3 separate regions of the Homo sapiens genome follow, and all the other regions are linked to region 2. The links come from fine-mapping of genetic effects on gene expression. A gene starts in region 2. Each other region holds a variant in brackets. All regions are shown on one strand. Distances are between the middles of the regions.

Region 1 (2,761 bases), 24 kb after region 2:
ATCTGGGAGGCAGGGGTTGCAGCAAGCCGAGATCGTGCCCGTGCACTCCAGCCTGGATGACAGAGCAAGACTCTGTCTTAAAAAAAAAAAAAAGAAGGAAAAAAGAAATTGGGTACACGCATGTTCTCACTTACAAGTGGGAGCTAAATAATGTGTACACATAGACATAGAGTATGGAATGATAGACAGTGGAGACTTGGAAGGGTTGGGGGCGGTGGATGATGAGAAACTACTTAATGGGTACCATGTACATTATTCTGGTGATGGATACACTAAAAGCCCTAATTTCACCACTATGCAATATATCCATGTAACAAAATTATATTTGTATCCCCCAAATTTATACTGACAAGGAAAGGAAAGGTAGATGGCTACCAGTGGCTCTCTCAAGCATGAGAAGTTCCGTATGGTGATACGGTAGTCACTGAAAACTGGCCCTTATTCTGTGCATGCACTTGCGACTGCAATGTTTGGGGTAGCACATATCAAGGATGAAGTCATCCTTATAAAATGTGAGCATTGATATATCTCATTCTCAAATACCAGACTACATTAGCAGAATACAACCTTTGGAAATCTCTTCTTATGTCAAAGTCCCAGAAAGAGATAAAGCATATTGACCAGGCAGGTCTCAAAATCCTGACTTCAGGTGATCTGCCCACCTCAGCCTCCCAAAGTGCTGGGATTACAGGCGTGAGCATGGCGAAACCCCGTCTCTAATAAAAATACAAAAAAAATTAGCTGGGCATGGTGGCAGGCGACCGTAATCCAGGCTACTCGGCAGGCTGAGGCTGGAGAAAGGCTTGAACTCAGGGGCGGAGGTTGCAGTGAGCTGAGATTGCGCCATTGCACTCCACTCCAGCCTGGGCAGCAAGAGCGAAACTCTGTCTCAAAAAAAAAAAAAAAAAAAAAAGAGAGAGAGAGAGATACAACATAAACTCAGAAACATCCTTATTTAAAATTCATTGTCAGCCAGGTACAGTGGCTTATGCCAGTAATCCCAGCACTTTGGGAGGTTGAGGTGGGAAGACCACTTGGGCACAGGAATTCGAGACCAGCCTGGGCAACATGGCGAAACCCCAACTCTACCAAAAATACAAAAACATTAGCTGGCTGTGGACGTGTGTGCCCATAGTCCCAGCTACTCAGGAGGCTGAGGTGGGAAGATGGTTTGTGCCCGGGAGGCAGATACTGCGGTCAGCCGAGATCACG[C/T]CATTGCACTCCAGCCTGGGCGATAGAGCAGGTCTAAAACAAACAAACAAAAAATTCATCATCACTTTGGAACTCTTTTCAATGGCATTAAAACATGCATTATTCCTCAACGTCTTAATGATTTTAATGTTATTTATACAATTTACTCCAAGTTTTGATGAAAAAAATAGAGCCTTACCCAGTGCCTAATGGCTACCTTGAATATAGCCTGCAGAATCTGTCTCATTTCTGGGACGGGTATTTTAATAATATTATAAGAAACTCACAGTAGTATTCTACTAAGAACTCTTAAAAAAAAATCCACCGGCAGCTCCCTAAAGTCATTGGCATGCCTAAATCCCTCTAAAAAACAGCATCAGGTACTATACTACTGTACTTTTGAGAGGTGACAGTGTGCTGGCAGTCCTCACAGCCCTCGCTTGCTCTCGGCACCTCCTCTGCCTGGGCTCCCACTTTGGCGGCACTTGAGGAGCCCTTCAGCCCACTGCTGCACTGTGGGAGCCCCTTTCTGGGCTGGCCAAGGCCGGAGCCGGCTCCCTCAGCTTGCAGGGAGGTGTGGAGGGACAGGCGCCAGCGGGAACCAGGGCTGCGCGTGGGCTTGCAGGCCAGCTGGAGTTCCGGGTAGGCGTGGGCTTGGCGGGCCCCGCACTCGGAGCAGCCCGCCGGCCCTGCCGGCCCCAGGCAATGAGGGGCTTAGCACCCGGGCTAGCAGCTGCGGAGGGTGTACTGGGTCCCCCAGCAGTGCCAGCCCACTGGCACTGCGCTCCATTTCTCATCGGGCCTTAGCTGCCTTCCTGCGGGGCAGGGCTCAGGACCTGCAGCCCGCCATGCCTGAGCCTCCCACCCCCTCCATGGGCTCCTGTGTGGCCCGAGCCTCCGCGACAAGTGCCACCCCCTGCTCCACGGTGCCCAGTCCCATCGACCACCCAAGGGCTGAGGAGTGCGGGCACACAGCACCGGGACTGGCAGGCAGCTCCACCTGCAGCCCTGGTGCGGGATCCACTGCGTGAAGCCAGCTGGGCTCCTGAGTCTGGTGGGAACATGGAGAACTTTTATGTCTAGCTCAGGGATTGCAAATACACCAATCGGCCCTCTGTATCTAGCTCAAGGTTTGTAAATACACCAATCAGCACCCTGTGTCTAGCTCAGGGTTTGTGAATGCACCAATTGACACTCCGTATCTAGCTATTCTGGTGGGGCCCTGGAGAACCTTTGTGTCGACACTCTGTATCTAGCTAATCTGGTGGGGATGTGGAGAACCTTTGTGTCTAGCTCAGGGATTGTAAACCCACCTATCAGCGCCCTGTCAAAACAGACCACTCAGCTCTACCAATTAGCAGGACGTGGGTGGGGCCAGATAAGAGAATAAAAGCAGGCTGCCCGAGCCAGCAGTGGCAACCCGCTCAGGTCCCCTTCCACACTGTGGAAGCTTTGTTCTTTCACTCTTTGCAATAAATCTTGCTGCTGCTCACTCTTTGGGTCCACACTGCTTTTATGAGCTGTAACACTCACCGCGAAAGTCTGCAGCTTCACTCCTGAGCCAGTGAGA
Region 2 (2,761 bases):
CCTCAGGTAATGTTATATCAAGAATTTCCATTCCAGGCCAAGCGCGGTGGCTCACGCCTGTAATCCCAGCACTTTGGGAGGTCGAGGTGGGCGGATCATGAGGTCAGGAGATCGAGACCATCCTGGCTAACATGGTGAAAACCCGTCTCTACCAAAAATACAAAAAATTAGCCAGGCGTGGTGGCAGGCGCCTGTAGTCCTAGCTACTGGGGAGGCTGAGGCAGGAAAATGGCATGAACCTGGGAGGCGGAGCTTGCAGTGAGCCGAAATCGAGCCACTGCACTCCAGCAGTCTGGGCGACAGAGAGAGACTCCGTCTCAAAAAAAAAAAAAAACGAATTTCCATTCCAATGACCACATGCTTCCCATTCCCAACATTACCTGGAAAATGTCCACTAGAATCATGGTTGCCAGCAGCATGGTGACTATTTCAAAATGTCCCGTCTTCATTTTTCTCTTCTAAATTAAAATAAAGAAATTTCAATTCAGTAGACTCAAAAAAGAGGTGTAGGGAAGTAGAATAGGATGACACTGCGTATTTTTTCATTTAGAATGTGAGTGGATAGCATGATGGTCAGGAAGTGATTATCAATAAATTCCTAACGGGCTACAAGAGCCATTAGGCTTTATCTAGTGGTCTAATGCTCTCATTCTACAGACGAGGAAACAAAAACACCTTAGAATTTCAGTGATTTGCTCAAGATTAAATCTGTGCATTTCCATACTCCTCCAGACATGTCATCTCTCCCACCACAGTCACTGGGAGTCATATTTTCTTCCCATCTCTAAATCTCCCCTCAGCGTGCACAGGAAATAACACAATCAGACTAAAAAACAGCAGTCTCAAATTGGTCCCCTAGCTCCCAGTTTCTAAGAATTCCCCAGGAATATGTCCATGCACATTATCCATTCTTCTATCCTCTTTGCACATTGTCATGCCCTTTTGAGTGGGACAGAGGAGATGATGAGGTCAGTAGTGGTACAAAGCAGTGGATTGTCAGAGATGGCCCCCTTCCCCCAAATACAATCAAGAGAAGCCCGAGGGTAAAATAAGTGTCTTACATAACTTTCTGAAGGCGGGAACAAGAATAAGAAGGAACTGGGTAGGCAGCAATTCTAAGATTATACAACTATTGGCCGAATGCCTAATATTCATCCCAGTATTTATGATAATGTAACTCAAATGAAGCTTCTATTTTACCCTACCAATCACCATATTCTGGATTCTAAAAATGAGAATGAACAGCACAGGGGAAGGGAGAAGTCTTCCCTTTTATAGATCATTTTGGCCTCAGTTTCCCATATTTCTTCAGAAGCAGTTTTGTTTTGTTTTTACTAAAAATACTAAAATATAGTACCAACATGCTACTTTGTGTTAAACTTCTCTTTCCAAAAAAGATTTGAATATAAGATGATAGATATCTGTCACAAGGCAATATGTTTTAAGCAAGCTTTGATCAGGATTTTCCTAAAAATTGTTCATTTCTTTAGTCTGAGTGTAAATAAGTCAAAAGGTTTACCTGGCTTTTGTGCCTTTGGAGGAAGTTTAAGTGATGCTAGGCCTCAAACTGACTCCCCACTCTCAGTTGTGGTAAGCAAGTCTTCAGGATGGGATGTTGTTGACAGTGAGAGCTGAGACAGGAATGCTTTTCTTTTTATAAACACCCCCAGCAGTAGCTTGGCAGTGGCACACTACGCTACTTGTGTTCTGCTATTTATATCTGGCCCCCCCACACTATGCCTTGGAATCACTGCTGTTAACACTTTAAATCTCCAAGAGGCTTGTAAAGCCATAGCAATTCCCTTTAGCCACACAGCACATTCAGTTCTGAGCCCACAGTTCTGGGCTTCTCTCAGAGAGAAATGACTTCCCATTCCTAATCCTTTGACACTGAGATATCAAACTAAAGCATGGATTTTACTCTAGGCTAAGTGATTCACATAACTAGGGAAACTTGCTCTGTTAATCACTGGCAATGGTGACAGCTATCACCATTCGCTCAACTAGCTTACTATATTTCAGGTACCTCGTCAGGAGTCGGGATACATAAGCAAGTAAAACAAAGTACTAAAAAGCACTCAAAATCTAATAAAAAACATGAATACGCATACTTAACCAAAATACAACATGTTAAGAATCCCAAGTATAGACAAAGTCCAGTGATAACATTAAGGAGGGAAGGATTTGGTAATGCCTGCAACTACAGCTGTCATTTGAGTAACGCATACATGGTAAATATACTGACTGCAATGCTGAGGAACACTTAGGGTTCACTGACTGTGGATTTAAAAAACACAAAAATGTCCAAAGAAATTCACGCATACATACACCAAAATACATTAATAGAATGTTGATAGTAGCACTATTCATAATAACCCCCAAACTGGAAACCAAATATCCATCAACAGTAGAATGGTTAGACTGTAAGTGAAATTTTATATAGCAATGAAAACGAACAAACTCTGACCATATATAACAATGTGGATAAATCTCACAAACAAAATTTTGAGTAAAAAAAGAGATACAAGCATGTTTATACTGTATGATTTAATTTATATCAAGAACAAAATTAGGCAAAACACTTCCAAGGCATGAGAAGTCAGAATAGTGGTCACCCTGGGTAGTAGCTAGTAACTGGAAAGGGCACAGAGGAGCATCTGAGATGTTAGCTGGGTTCTGCTTTTTGCTATGGATGCCAATTACATTGACAAATTCAGTTTGTGAAAATTCAGTGAGCTATATACTTATGATATGTGTTTTT
Region 3 (2,761 bases), 32 kb after region 2:
GAATGTGGTTTTCACACTAACCAGTCGGGGATAGTATGAGATGCCGCCCGGCGTTTACAGGAAAAGGCTTCTGAAATCAGACAACGCCTTTCAAATTCTTATACCAATCTCTGGAGTTGGGCAACATGGCTTCTCCCCTTTCTAGGTCCCATGGCAGCCATCTTGCTGTTACTCGCTTTTGGGCCCTGTATTTTTAACCTTCCTGTCAAATTTGTTTCCTCTAGAATCGAGGCCATCAAGCTACAGATGGTCTTACAAATGGAACCCCAAATGAGTTCAACTAACAACTTCTACCAAGGACCCCTGGACCAACCCGCTGGCACTTCCCCTGGCCTAGAGAGTTCCCCTCTGAAGGACACTACAACTGCAGGGCCCCTTCTTCACCCCTATCCAGCAGGAAGTAGCTAGAGTGGTCATCGGCCAAATTCCCAACAGCAGTTGGGGTGTCCTGTTTAGAGGTGGGATTGAGAGGTGACAGTGTGCTGGCAGTCCTCACAGCCCTCGCTTGCTCTTGGTACCTCCTCTGCCTGGGCTTCCACTTTGGCGGCACTTGAGGAGCCCTTCAGCCCACTGCTGCACTGTGGGAGCCCCTTTCTGGGCTGGCCAAGGCCGGAGCTGGCTCGCTCAGCTTGCAGGGAGGTGTGGAGGGACAGGCGCCAGTGGGAACCAGGGCTGCGCACAGCGCTTGTGGGCCAGCTGGAGTTCTGGGTGGGCGTGGGCTTGGTGGGCCCCGCACTCGGAACAGCTGGCCAGCCCTGCCGGCCCCGGGCAATGAGGGGCTTAGCACCCAGGCCAGCAGCTGCGGAGGGTGTACTGGGTCCCCCAGTGGGCTGGCACTGCACTCGATTTCTCATCGGGCCTTAGCTGCCTTCCTACAGGGCAGGGCTCGGGACCTGCAGCCCGCCATGCCTGAGCCTCCCACCCCCTCCATGGGCTCCTGTGTGGCCCGAGCCTCCCTGACGAGTGCCACCCCCTGCTCCACGGTGCCCAGTCCCATTGACCACCCAAGGGCTGAGGAGTGTGGGCACACAGCACCGGGACTGGCAGGCAGCTCCACCTGCAGCCCTGGTGCGGGATCCACTGCGTGAAGCCAGCTGGGCTCCTGAGTCTGGTGGGGACGTGGAGAACCTTTATGTCTAGCTCAGGGATTGTAAATACACCAATCAGCCCTCTGTATCTAGCTCAAGGTTTGTAAATACACCAGTCAGCACCCTGTGTCTAGCTCAGGGTTTGTGAATGCACCAATCGACACTCTGTATCTAGCTATTCTGGTGGGGCCCCGGAGAACCTCTGTGT[C/T]GACACTCTGTATCTAGCTAATCTGGTGGGGATGTGGAGAACCTTTGTGTCTAGCTCAGGGATTGTAAACGCACCAATCACGCCCTGTCAAAACAGACCACTCGGCTCTACCAATCAGCAGGACGTGGGTGGGGCCAGATAAGAGAATAAAAGCAGGCTGCCCGAGCCAGCAGTGGCAACCCGCTCAGGTCCCCTTCCACACTGTGGAAGCTTTGTTCTTTCACTCTTTGCAATAAATCTTGCTGCTGCTCACTCTTTGGGTCCACACTGCTTTTATGAGCTGTAACACTCACCGCGAAAGTCTGCAGCTTCACTCCTGAGCCAGCGAGACCACGAACCCACCAGAAGGAACAAACTCCGAACACATCCGAACATCAGAAGGAACAAACTCCAGACGCGCCACCTTAAGAGCTGTAACACTCACCGCGAGGGTCCGTGGCTTCATTCTTGAAGTCAGCGAGACCAAGAACCCACCAATTCTGGACACACTTTTAAGAGTTTAGGATTCTACATTAATCTGTTCAGTCTATCTATATTATTTCAGGTGTCTATTACATGCCTGGCAACCTCTTCCCTAGGAGTGAGTCATCTGTCTTCTAACACTCAAAACAGGATTCTTTTAAGTCATACTTATTTATAATAAATGGAAACATTAGTTTTCATTTCTAACCCACTTTTCACTAACTTAACTGAATAAAATATCCTTGATACTACCTTTTTTCTTTTGTCAGGCAATATATTATTCAGAGACCTGGTGAATGGTGAGTTGGAAATTATTTTTAAATAGCTTACATTAATCTCTTTTAACTTGGAAACATTTTAAAATTCTACATTAATTGGCTAACTTAGCAGCATTAATAAAATTTCAGATGAAGCACAGATTACAGATTTTTTAAGCTGAAAAGGTGATTACTTATGGAAACTAGATTCCATCATTTCCTGGGATGCTCCTATGTCTTTAAATTAAAAGCAAAACTTATTTAAGTGGGTGAACCTGGGAAAATAAAATAAAGTAGTCCAATTCTGGAAACAATAAAAAAGGCCAACACTGCTAAGAACACAGAGAATGTATCTGATCTTTTTTGCATTTAATCAAAGAAAAAGAGCAATGAGATATAATGACTTAGAGAAAGAAGAAAACAACTAGGGAAATTTACAGGAGTTTGACAGTTATCTATCTGCCTCTCCAACCTCAGCTTTAGTTTAAAATAAGTATGGAGTCAGTATATAATACATGCCAAATGAATAACTAGACCTTCACTGTCCAATATGGTAGCCACTAAACACATGTTATTATCAAGCATTTGAAATGTAGCTAGTTCAATTTGAAGACTTAGTAATAAAAGGTAAAATATTTCATTTAACATTTTTATATCCACATTGATTACACATTGAAATAATATATTTTCATGCTTAATTAAAGAAAATATATTTAAATTAATTTCATCTGTTTCTTTTTACTTTC

Direction of the effects. Positions count from the first base shown, and alleles are read on the strand shown. Sizes are in standard deviations (SD) of each study's normalised expression. Not every link is listed here.
For the expression in sun-exposed skin of the gene that starts at base 1,630 in region 2, allele C in region 1 goes with a lower level than allele T (large effect, 0.83 SD a copy in GTEx).

What was found. PIP is the estimated chance that this variant, and not a neighbour inherited with it, causes the effect. A credible set is the group of variants that fine-mapping cannot tell apart.
Region 1: its variant is the best candidate, but not a certain one, in a credible set for the expression of ART3 in sun-exposed skin (GTEx, PIP 0.58).
Region 3: its variant is the best candidate, but not a certain one, in a credible set for the expression of ART3 in pituitary (GTEx, PIP 0.67).

The regions. Positions count from the first base shown.
Region 1 is chr4:76,050,051-76,052,811 of GRCh38, reverse strand. It overlaps a transcript of ART3 not described here. Among named protein-coding and RNA genes, the nearest start is that of CXCL11, 15 kb to the right of the region's middle. The variant C/T (reference allele first, on the strand shown) is at 1,213.
Region 2 is chr4:76,073,578-76,076,338 of GRCh38, reverse strand. ART3 (ADP-ribosyltransferase 3 (inactive)) reads right to left here and starts at 1,630. Exons shown (of 12, transcript NM_001130016.3): 1 at 1,520-1,630; 2 at 381-458. The coding sequence starts at 449.
Region 3 is chr4:76,041,555-76,044,315 of GRCh38, reverse strand. It overlaps a transcript of ART3 not described here. Among named protein-coding and RNA genes, the nearest start is that of CXCL11, 6.9 kb to the right of the region's middle. The variant C/T (reference allele first, on the strand shown) is at 1,297.